Homo sapiens: one gene and its partner. The protein of the gene in region 1 interacts with the protein of each later gene in a biochemical or structural test. Each region holds a gene or a part of one and is shown on either strand. Other genes may lie near its edges.

Region 1 (7,141 bases):
TCCAGGAGGCCTCAGAGACTGTGTCACCTGAGCAGCCGGGGAGCAGGACCAGGAGCTGGGAAAAAAAAAACCGAACATCCCGCTCTTACTATGAGATTTTTCTCAGCAGTGGCCGCGGGCACTCACCTTTTTGAAGTGTGTGGCCGACTGCACCTTCCTCACGGGCTGCATGAGAGAGTCCCGCACGATGATGCTGATGTCCGCGCCCGAGTAGCCTTCCGTCTTCCGGGCCAGCTCGTGGATGTTTGCATCCGTGAGGTTGTGGGGAGTGCTCCCGAGATGCAACCGGAACATCTGGGCGCGGGCAGCTTCCTCCGGCAAGGGGATATAAATTCGTTTTTCAAACCTAGAGAGCCCAGCACACGGCAGGAGTTGACAGCGGATGATGGAATGGTATTCACGGAAGGGGAGGCACGAAGATTTGAGTGAAACGGACGCATTTCATGGGCCAGTGATGCTGGCGGCACATCCTCAACAAGCCAGCCTCACAAAGGGCTCTGCTTGGCAGGCAGACGGGAAGACTCCAGGGAAAAGGGGCCAGGCTGCACCCGGGCTGCCAGCAGCAGGCGGACCGTGACCATGGTGGGAGGAAGCCTCCAGCCCTGGCTTCTCCTGGGGAAGACTCACCTCCTCCTGATGGCCGAATCCAACACCCATGGGATGTTTGTGGCTCCAAGAACCAGAGTCCCATCATTGTTATTCCCCACCCCTGTGGAGAAAGGGAGACAAAGACTCAGACTCTGGACACCTGCACGGGTCAGTTGAAACCTGGGGACAGACCCCGGGGGCTTTGTGTGTCAGCAATTGAAGCCATCCCTGTGCCACCCACCACTGGCAGGGTCCCAAGTGAGATTAAACCACATCTTGGTCTGGCTGTGCCAGGTGAGACCTATGGCACTGCCTGCCATGGGAGGGGTGGAGTGGCCCGTGAGGCAGAGGCCTCAGGCACCTCTTGGGAATTGAAGTCCACCCGTGCCCTGAGGGGCTGGAGCTGGGGAGTGCCTCTCCGAGGCTGAGAACAACCAAATCCAGCCGCAGCTCAGAATAAAGCCCAGGGTTGGCTTCAGGTGCAACAAGAACCAAGGGGGCCCTGGGCCCGGCACACACCCTGCATCTGGACCAAGAACTCCGTTTTGATCCTCCGGGCGGCCTCACTCTCATTTTCATTTCGGGACCCGCAGAGGGAATCCACCTCATCGATGAAGATGATGGAGGGCTTGTGCTGCCTGGCCAGCTCAAACAGGTTCTTGACCAGCCTGTGAAGGTGAGAAAGGGGGTGAGGACAAGACGTTCACGTCCGTGCCCGCCTGGGCTCCCGGCACTTCCCTCTTCTCACCCTTCCCACAGGGAGGCGCAGGCCACGGTCATGCCGGAATTGCGGAAAACGTGGTGGTGAGGAGCCCTCGGGCCACACTGCACCAAGAGGAGGAGCACACCTTGGTGTCAGCCCCAAACGCAGAGCCTCAATCCCAGGAGCCCCATGCGCTAGCTCTGCACTTACAACACGTCAGTCCCCTTCTTCCGAGCCCGTCTCATCACACGCAAAACAGGAGTCAGTGTGGGGAACCATGTCCCCCACACACTGCCCCAACAGGGACCGCAACCCAGACCCCAAAAATATCCTCACTTCCTTTCCCTTCTCTTGTGGAGCACTTCACCTCTCCCAGGTCCCTTCCACCTTCACTTGTCTTTGTTGGGACTGTGTCCCAGCCGATAAGCTAGCGACACACTGCTCTTGGGTACCCTCCCTGAAAACCAAACCACTCCTCTGAGAGGTGACTCCACAGGGTGGGCCGCTGGGTCACTAGCAGTGCCGGGGCTGCTGGCAGAGCATGGCCTGGTGGCCGACTTACTTTTCACTCTCCCCCAGCCACTTGGACATCAGATCTGAGGAGGACACAGAGAAGAAGGTGGAGTTGTTGGCCTCTGTTGCCACGGCTTTGGCCAGGTAGGATTTCCCTGTGCCAGGGGGTCCGAACAGCAGAATCCCCCGCCAGGGGGTGCGCTTGCCTGCAACAGAGAACCACAGAAGTTAGGCCTCCTGACTGGGGAAAGGAATAGGAAAAGCAGAGGGTCTCGAGTCCCATACATACAGTAAAACAGGGCATTCTGTGAAACAACGGACTCTACTGGCAAACAAGTGATGGGAGCTACATTCCCTGCTGTGCCCTGTGCTATGACCCCATGACCTTGCACAGTGCCCCTGCTATGACCCCATGACCTTGCACAGTGACACCGGCTGGCACTGCTTCCTGATCCTGCCCCCACCCTGTGACGTGATCGTCATCTCATAGCTCCAGCCACAGCAGTGTTGTGGACACCAGCGAGCAGCCAGGCCTGGCCCTCTGCAGGCCCCGGGGGCTGAGTCGCCACTGACTCCCGGGTGCCTCGGAGTGCCAGCCCTGCGGAAGCCTGGAATTTTTACATTGGGGTTTGAAATGGCTCAACTCTCACCTGTGAACAAGTGTGGGAATTTGATTGGCAAAATGACAGCTTCTTTGAGGGCCTCCTTGGCCCCCTCCAGCCCGGCCACGTCGTTCCACCGTATGTTGGGCTTCTCCATCACGACGGCACCTGCGAGAGGGAGGCCGGCCCGGGCCCGGGCCCGGCCAAGGGGCATGAGCCAACCCAGCAGCGGACCCACTCTCATCCCCTGCCGCTGCCACAGGGCCGCGAGCCACTTACCCATCAGCTGTTCTTGCAGTTTCTTTTTCTCCGGATTATCCCCTTCACTGTCACTGTCACTGCTGGGAAGGGAGACGGAAAGTCACAAGCTGGCCCTTCAGCCTGGAGCACAGAGGTGCTCCCAGCAAGTCCAGGCTCCGCTGCCTGCACACTGGTTAAGGAACGAAGCCTTCCTGGCTTAACAGTGCCGTGTGACTCAAGCAAGTACTTCAGGGACATTTGGGCCAATGCTCTCAGCAGCTCACTTCAGGACCCCCCCAGCAAACACTCCTATAACCCGCCCTGTTTCTTCGCGGAGCAGATGGGAATCCGGGTCGGCCCTCTCCTGAAGGCCGTAAGGGAAATGTGCTTCAGCTGGACTTAAAGAGCAGCCCAGGCCAGGTGCGGTGACTCACACCTCATACTCTGGGAGGCCACCTGCAGTGGCTCTCACAGCCCAGGCTGGGTGCGGTGGCTCACCCCTGTAATCCCAGCACTCTGGGAGGCTGAGGCGGGAGGATCGCTTGAGCCCAGGAGTTTGAGACCAGCCTGGGAAACAGCGAGATCTTGTCTCTACAAAAAACACAAAATTAGCCAAGCATGGTGGCACGCACCTATGGTGCCAGCTACTTGGGAGGCAGAGGTTGCAGTTAACCAAGATCGCACCACTGCACTCCAGCCTGGGAGACAGTGAAGCCCTGTCTGGGGGAAAAAAAAAAAAAAAAGCCAGTCAAACAATGCAGCTGCCAGAAGCTTCTTTTTTTTTTTTTTTTTTTTTTGAGATGGTGCCCAGGTTGGAGTGCGATGGCACAATCTCCATCTCAGCTCACTGCAATCTCCGCCTCCCGGGTTCAAGTAATTCTCTGAATTCTCTGGCGTCAGCCTCCCGAGTAGCTGGGATTACAGGCACATGCCACAATGCCTGGCTAATTTTTTTTTTAAGACAGAGTCGCACTCAGTCGCCCAGGCTGGAGTGTAGTGGCTCGATCTCGGCTCACTGCAAGCTCCGCCTCCCGGGTTCACGCCATTCTCCTGCCTCAGCCTCCTGAGTAGCTGGGACTACAGGTGCCCGCCACCACGCCCGGCTAATATTTTGTATTTTTAGTGGAGACGGGGTTTCACCGTGTTAGCCAGGATGGTCTCAATCTCCTGACCTCGTGATCCGCCCGCCTCGGCTTCCCAAAGTGCTGGGATTACAGGCGTGAGCCACCGCGCCCGGCCTATTTTTTTGTATTTTTAATAGAGACGGGATTCACCATGTTGGCCAGGCTGGTTTTGAAATCCTGACCTCAAGTGATCTGCCCGCGTTGGCCTCCCAAAGTGCTGGGATTACAGGTGTGAGCCACCATGCCCCGCACCAGAAGCTTTTTGTAGAGACTCAGGGACAGCATGTGCCCCTGACTCCAAAGCAGCCACTGCCGAAGGACAGAGGAGAAAGCAAAACCGAAATCGAAAGGGAACTCCTGGGGAGAACGCAGCCACTGTCACCCCAGGGCTACTTCCTCCCTGGATGGAATCTGTCATCCTCAAAACTTGATTTAATCCTTATTGGAGATCCCTGGCCTCCACCCCTGCCTCGCCAGACCTCTCCCTCTGCGGATGGGAACGTGGTGCAGACCCTCCATCCAGGAGGAGGCCTCGCCTCTGGTGAGGCAGCTGACACCACCCACCCCTCTCCTGCCTGGGGGACCCCCTCACTTCCCCTCCCACGCCTCCGAGATACCACCAGCATTTGTGTTCATATGACTGGGATCACCGTGGTGGGCGAACCCAGTACCTGAGGTGAGAGGCTGTGGAGAGGACCCTGGCTGGGGAATCGGGGCCACCCGCCCTGCTTTGGGGGTCCAAGTTCCATCCTGTGCCACCTCGGCAGGGCTCCTAACCCGAGCCGGCCGCCCCACCTGTTGGAGGCAGGTGACTCTTTGACAGTCACAGCAGCTGGCACTCATTGCATGCTCTCGTGTGCCAAGCTCCAAGGGCACTGCCCACGTCATCTCACTGCTCCCTGTGGCAACGCTCGGAGGTGAGTTCCACGACCTCCCCACTTCCAAGATGTGGAGATGGTAGGCACACGGGGTCCTGGCACTAGGCTGGGAGGTGACAGAGCTGGGGTCCCGTCCTGAGAGGCTCTACCATCTGCACCAAGCTCCCCCTCTCCCCATGGCTTGTGGGTCAGATCCAATGAGACGGTGAACATGGAAGTGCTCCAGGCCATGCTCCCTGAAAGCAGCTGCTGGCACTGTCATCCCTGCACTATGAGGACCATTCCCACAGGGAAGTCCAAGGCAGCATGAGCGCCAGGAATGATAGGGAGCCGTGAGGAGGGCCCAGGTTCCTGGGCGGACGCTGCAGACACTCACCCCTTGCCCTCACTCTGGTTCTCTTTGACTGGCTTCTTGCCGTGTTTCTCTTTGCTTCGTAAATAATCCTTCAGCTTCTCGGCCCGGTCTAGGTACTGCACGCACTTGGCTCGAATGCTCTCCTTGGCCTTGTCGCTGTGGGCCTCATCTGTGAAAGGGAACACAGAGGGGCCCCTGTGAGGCTCGTGCGCCACCCCCTCTCCTCCGCTCCCCTCTGGAGTGCGGCAGCCTGAGGACCCCTCGTGTGACTCACACTTGATAGCGTGGAGGAAGTACTCCACCGCATGCTGGTACAGCCGCAGCGCCTCCTCGTAGTTCTTGGCTTTGTCCTCCTCTGTGGCTTTCGTCACCAGATCAATGGCTTTCTGGAAAGGCAAAGCAAATGGCTCAGTGCTTCCTCGGAGAGGTGGAAAGTCCCTGGGGTCACAGGCATGGGGATGAAACGTGACGAGGGATGCCGCTGGGCCTGTGGATTTATTGCTTGCGGGCCATTTCATTGGCCTACTTTTTCAACATCGGCTAGAAAGGCCTTCAAAGAAGGCTTTGAAAACCAGCCGGCCATCTTCACAATAAGCTCAGACGGTTAAAAGCCACGCTCTGGATTTCAGCAAGTGGAAACCTGACCTAATATCTCAGGTCAGGGCTCAAGGGGCAAGTTCATGGGACTTTCTATTCTGCTGCCTCAAGGGAAAGAGAAACAGACCCGAGCTGAGAGCCTGGCAGAAGGGACACGCGGGAGCAAGTGACTGCTGGTTTGTTTAGCAAGGAGACCAGAAATTGCACCCGGCCTCAGGGCCAGAGAAGAGCCAGCCAGAAGGAAAGTCCTGCCCGGACTGCAAGTTTGCACAGGATACACTGAAAGGCCTCTCTCCTCCTCCTCCTGGCTCCATGCAGCTTGCTTCTCCAGGCTGCAGAGAGAAGACAGTTTCCTTCGCTGTCTAAAGTGACACCCTGGGAAGGGACGCTTACACACAATGCTCCACATACCAGTAGCTCCAGTAAGAAAAGTACTTGCTTGCTCCCTGCTGCCAACAGAAGAGAACTGTGTCCCTCTGGAACCTTCTAAGAGCTCTGTGAGAATGAGTGTCTTTGGGAATCTCATAAATCCTGTAGGCCAGTGCCTTAGGCTGAACTGAAAGCACCTACGTGGTTTTATTTATTATTATTATTTTTTGAGACAGAGTCTTACTCTATCATCTAGGCCGGAGTGCACTGGCGCGATCTCGGCTCACTGCAACCTCCACCTCCTGGGTTCAAGTGATAGATGCCCACCACTACATCCGGCTAATTTTTGTATTTTTAGTGCAGACAGAGTTTCACCATGTTGGCCAGGCTGGTCTCGAACTCCTGACATCAAGTGATCCACCCGCCTTGGCTTCCAAAGTGCTGGGATTACAGAAATGAGCCACCGCGACCGGTCAGTAAAGCACCTACATGGTTTTAAAGCCTGGTTTTAAAAACCGCAGCTTCACCAACGCCTGCACGAAGCATGACCAGAATTCTCCTCCTCAGATCCGGCACCAGTTACCAGGCAGGCAGTCCCACCGCAGACCCACGGTTCCAGGCACAGCAAACAATAAACCTCCTGACCGGCTCTTGGCAGGGCCGGGGCATTTGTTCAGCCCTCTCTTATCTGCAAGGAAGAAGTCTCCGAAAGAAACACACACAGACAGCTCGACAAAACAGACAGGCCAGGGGAGGCTGGGCCAGGCTGATGTGAAATGAACTCAGCGGATTGAAGAGATGAGAAGAGGGGTGAGTGCTGGCCATTATTTTCAAGCCTCTGCTCCCTCTACTACCTACAATGAATGGCTGGGAGCCCCAAACCTTCTTGGAAATGAGCTTAGGCACAGGCTGCCCTTGTCTGCCCTCTTCTGCATGATGTTCCTTCAGATGAGACAGGAAGGCAGCGCTCCTCTCCCTGGTGGCTTCTCGTCTCCAGAACACACACCCCCAGTACCTTGGACTTTTTCACTCTCTGTAGCTTCATGCTTGGGTCTATCCTTAGAACAATACTGAAGGTATTCTTTGTCCCATAAGGAGCAGCACTGACCCATCCCCTCCCTCCTTTTGGAAATTCTAGTAATACACCTAAGAGTGTGCTGGGGCTGGGCACG
Region 2 (3,565 bases), on another chromosome or scaffold:
GAGCATGAAAGGCAGCCGCGTGGAGCGCGCGGAAGAGGCACTTGCCCACATGGGCAGCTCCGTGAGTACCCTGAGCAGGGCCACGCCGGCAGAGTCGCACCACAAAGTAATCCTCCTCAGTGACTGAAGAGTCTGGATCCTGTACTTACAAAGCAGCTTCTAAGGATTGCAAGCTTTCAGGCAATTCATGAATTAGCTGCCACATCGTGGACAGAACGGACGTTCTGTGGAACTGTACCTGTTGGTACGGCTCCTTTTTAGGTGGCAGTGTGCTGAAGCAGGAAAATAACAGACAAGTTAAACATGAGACAGCTGGCAGTCTTTCCCATTTAAAATGCAGGGGAGCCCGGGCCAGAACCCAGCGTGTGATGTGCGGTTGGTGCCTGGAGAGTCGTCTTGGTTCAACTCTACACCCTGGCTTAGCCTATCTCTTTACCACTGTAGAAAATACCTGGTAAAGAGTAAAAACTAAAACTTTGTTTCGTAACACTTTTAAATATTTAAGTTTTCACCTGAGAATATAAAGAAAGATAATCAATTGGGAGACACGATGCAGTGTCTGTGCAGAATACACAGCTTTTAACTTGGTCATACCTCTCCCCCAGGATCATAAGGCAGCAAATAGTGTTAGGTAGTAGATGATGCTACCTGGGTTCAGTTCCCATTGCTTTGAACCTTGAATATTAAGAAATCCCCATAAGGGCTGGCCACGGTGGCTCATGCCTATAACCCCAGCACTTTGGGAGGCCAAGGCTGGCGGACCACTTGCGGCCAGGGGTTCGAGACCATGGCCAACATGGTGAAACCCCATCTCTACTAAAAACACAAAAATTAGCCAGGCATGGTGGCGTGCACCTGTTTAATCCCAGCTACTCAGGAGGCTGGGGCAGGAGAATCACTTGAACCTGGGAGAAATCCTTGTAAGGAAGTGTTTTTGTTCAATTACAGGTTGGTAAAAGTGGTTTCTAACACAGTATCTCTTCTTTTAGGTGTTCAGTGGAATCACACTTACAAAATTTGGAGGGATTGTGGTGTTGGCTTTTGCCAAATCTCAAATTTTCCAGATATTCTACTTCAGGATGTATTTGGCCATGGTCTTACTGGGAGCCACTCACGGATTAATATTTCTCCCTGTCTTACTCAGTTACATAGGTAAGAGTTCTCATCTTAAAAGGGTGGCACAATAGAAGGACATTACTGAAAGGGAATTCTATCCTGAGGCATTCTTTTCAAGTATTTGAACTCATACTAATGGTCATTTGATAATGATAAATGATACTGAGTAAAAAAATTTCTTCTAAAAGAAAAAACCCATCCAGGGGATTCATGATGGTGCAGACTACTTTATTAGGAAGTTGTCGATGTTTTTTCTGGAGGCCTGATCTGTCTGCTTCACAAAGGCCTGGAGCCAGTCCTTGAATGGATCTGAGTGTCAGCAGGCAGGGCAGCTCCTCCCTGCCACTGAGATGAAGGAGTCCATCTGGCAGCCAGCTCTCACACCAGCAGTGCTGCAGAACAGCTTTTTATGTCCCTCATGGATTTCCCGTTTCTTAGCAAAGTGCTTGCTGCCTTTCTTCATCTCGAGACTGTCCTTGATCCTTTTACTTCTATGGCCACTTCACCTTGCACAAAAATGACCCACGGTTGAAAGAACAATACTGATTTGCTTCATTTATAGCTTTGTCACTAAATTGAAGCACTGAAGTAGAAGATTAAGAAAATGAGGGGCTTTTTATCATCTCCGGGGGATAGAAAGTAGTTCTATTACAATCTAATATACTAGTTCCTTTTAAGAAAAAAAAAAAAAAAAAGAGATGAGCACTTTGGAAGGCTGAGACAGGAGAATCGTTTGAGACCAGCCTAGGCAACATAGTGAGGCCTCCATCTCTACAAAAATAAAATTAGCCAGGTGAAGTGGTGTGCGTCTGCAGTCCCACCTACTTGTTAGGCTGAGGCAGGAAGCTTGCTTGAGCCCAGAAGGGTGGGCTTAGGATGCAGTGAGTCGTGTTCATACCACTGCACTGCAGCCTGAGGAAGAAAGCAAAGAGCCCATCTCCAAAAGAGAGGGAGAGAGATGTGGTCTCACTCTGTTGTCCAGGCTGGTCTCAAGCAATTCTCCTGCCTCAGTCTTCCAAAGTGGGATTACAGGCGTGAGCCACTATGCCCAGCCAACTAGCTCCCTTTCTCCTGCAGAAATAAGAAAAAGTCTCTCTCTCTCATAGGGCCATCAGTAAATAAAGCCAAAAGTTGTGCCACTGAAGAGCGATACAAAGGAACAGAGCGCGAACGGCTTCTAAATTTCTAGCCCTCTCGCAGGGCATCCTGACTGAACTGTGTCTAAGGGTCGGTCGGTTTACCACTGGACGGGTGCTGCATCGGCAAGGCCAAGTTGAACACCGGATGGTGCCAACCATCGGTTGTTTGGCAGCAGCTTTGAACGTAGCGCCTGTGAACTCAGGAATGCACAGTTGACTTGGGAAGCAGTATTACTAGATCTGGAGGCAACCACAGGACACTAAACTTCTCCCAGCCTCTTCAGGAAAGAAACCTCATTCTTTGGCAAGCAGGAGGTGACACTAGATGGCTGTGAATGTGATCCGCTCACTGACACTCTGTAAAGGCCAATCAATGCACTGTCTGTCTCTCCTTTTAGGAGTAAGCCATCCCACAAGTTCTATACCATATTTTTAGTGACAGTTGAGGTTGTAGATACACTTTATAACATTTTATAGTTTAAAGAGCTTTATTAATGCAATAAATTAACTTTGTACACATTTTTATATAAAAAAACAGCAAGTGATTTCAGAATGTTGTAGGCCTCATTAGAGCTTGGTCTCCAAAAATCTGTTTGAAAAAAGCAACATGTTCTTCACAGTGTTCCCCTAGAAAGGAAGAGATTTAATTGCCAGTTAGATGTGGCATGAAATGAGGGACAAAGAAAGCATCTCGTAGGTGTGTCTACTGGGTTTTAACTTATTTTTCTTTAATAAAATACATTGTTTTCCTAAGTTTTGGGGTTACCCTATCTGCTTTGAGAGACAAATACAAAAGCTAAATGGAAGAGATTCTATCTAACCTGTCCTTATGGTAACTAAATGCCGTCTTACATTGAGCTAGAAATAGACCTAGAAGTTTCATTAGACAGCCCTGATCCTTCCCTATCCTAAAGATGATGTCTTAGGTTGTATAACTATTTGGAGATGAGAATGATCAACCAGGGCCAGGTGCGGTGGCTCAAACCTGTAATCCCAGCACTTTGGGAGGCTGAGGCAGGCGGATCATGAGGTCAGGAGTTTGAGACCAGCCTGGACAATATAGTAAAACCCCATCTCTACTAAAAATACAAAAATCAGCCGGGTGTGGTGGCACGCACCTGTAGTCCCAACTACTCAGGAGGCTGAGGCAGAAGAATCGCTTGAACCCAGCGGAGGTTGCAGTGAACCGAGATCACACCACTGCACTCCAGCCTGGGCAACGGAGCGAGACTCTGTCTCAAAAAAAAAATGAGAATGATCAACCAATGTATACTTCATAAAACTGAAACCTTAATAAGCCCCAGACCCTT

Evidence for each region. The genes of interacting proteins can lie anywhere in the genome.
Region 2: the proteins of VPS4A (region 1) and NPC1 form a complex in vitro, tested with the Homo sapiens proteins (one study listed by BioGRID).

Annotation. Positions count from the first base shown.
Region 1 is NC_000016.10:69,314,256-69,321,396, reverse strand, and holds part of VPS4A (vacuolar protein sorting-associated protein 4A), read right to left. Parts: intron 5,390-7,141; coding exon 5,278-5,389; intron 5,173-5,277; coding exon 5,025-5,172; intron 2,748-5,024; coding exon 2,686-2,747; intron 2,575-2,685; coding exon 2,455-2,574; intron 2,011-2,454; coding exon 1,854-2,010; intron 1,257-1,853; coding exon 1,108-1,256; intron 710-1,107; coding exon 628-709; intron 347-627; coding exon 127-346; intron 1-126. UniProt on the Homo sapiens protein: Involved in late steps of the endosomal multivesicular bodies (MVB) pathway. Recognizes membrane-associated ESCRT-III assemblies and catalyzes their disassembly, possibly in combination with membrane fission.
Region 2 is NC_000018.10:23,530,942-23,534,506, reverse strand, and holds the end of NPC1 (NPC intracellular cholesterol transporter 1 precursor), read left to right. Parts: coding exon 1-61; intron 62-989; coding exon 990-1,152; intron 1,153-2,222; coding exon 2,223-2,305; 3' UTR 2,306-2,802; coding exon of another isoform or gene 2,803-2,882; 3' UTR 2,883-3,065; downstream 3,066-3,565. Other genes in the region: RMC1 (regulator of MON1-CCZ1 complex), read right to left, coding at 2,803-2,882. UniProt on the Homo sapiens protein: Intracellular cholesterol transporter which acts in concert with NPC2 and plays an important role in the egress of cholesterol from the endosomal/lysosomal compartment.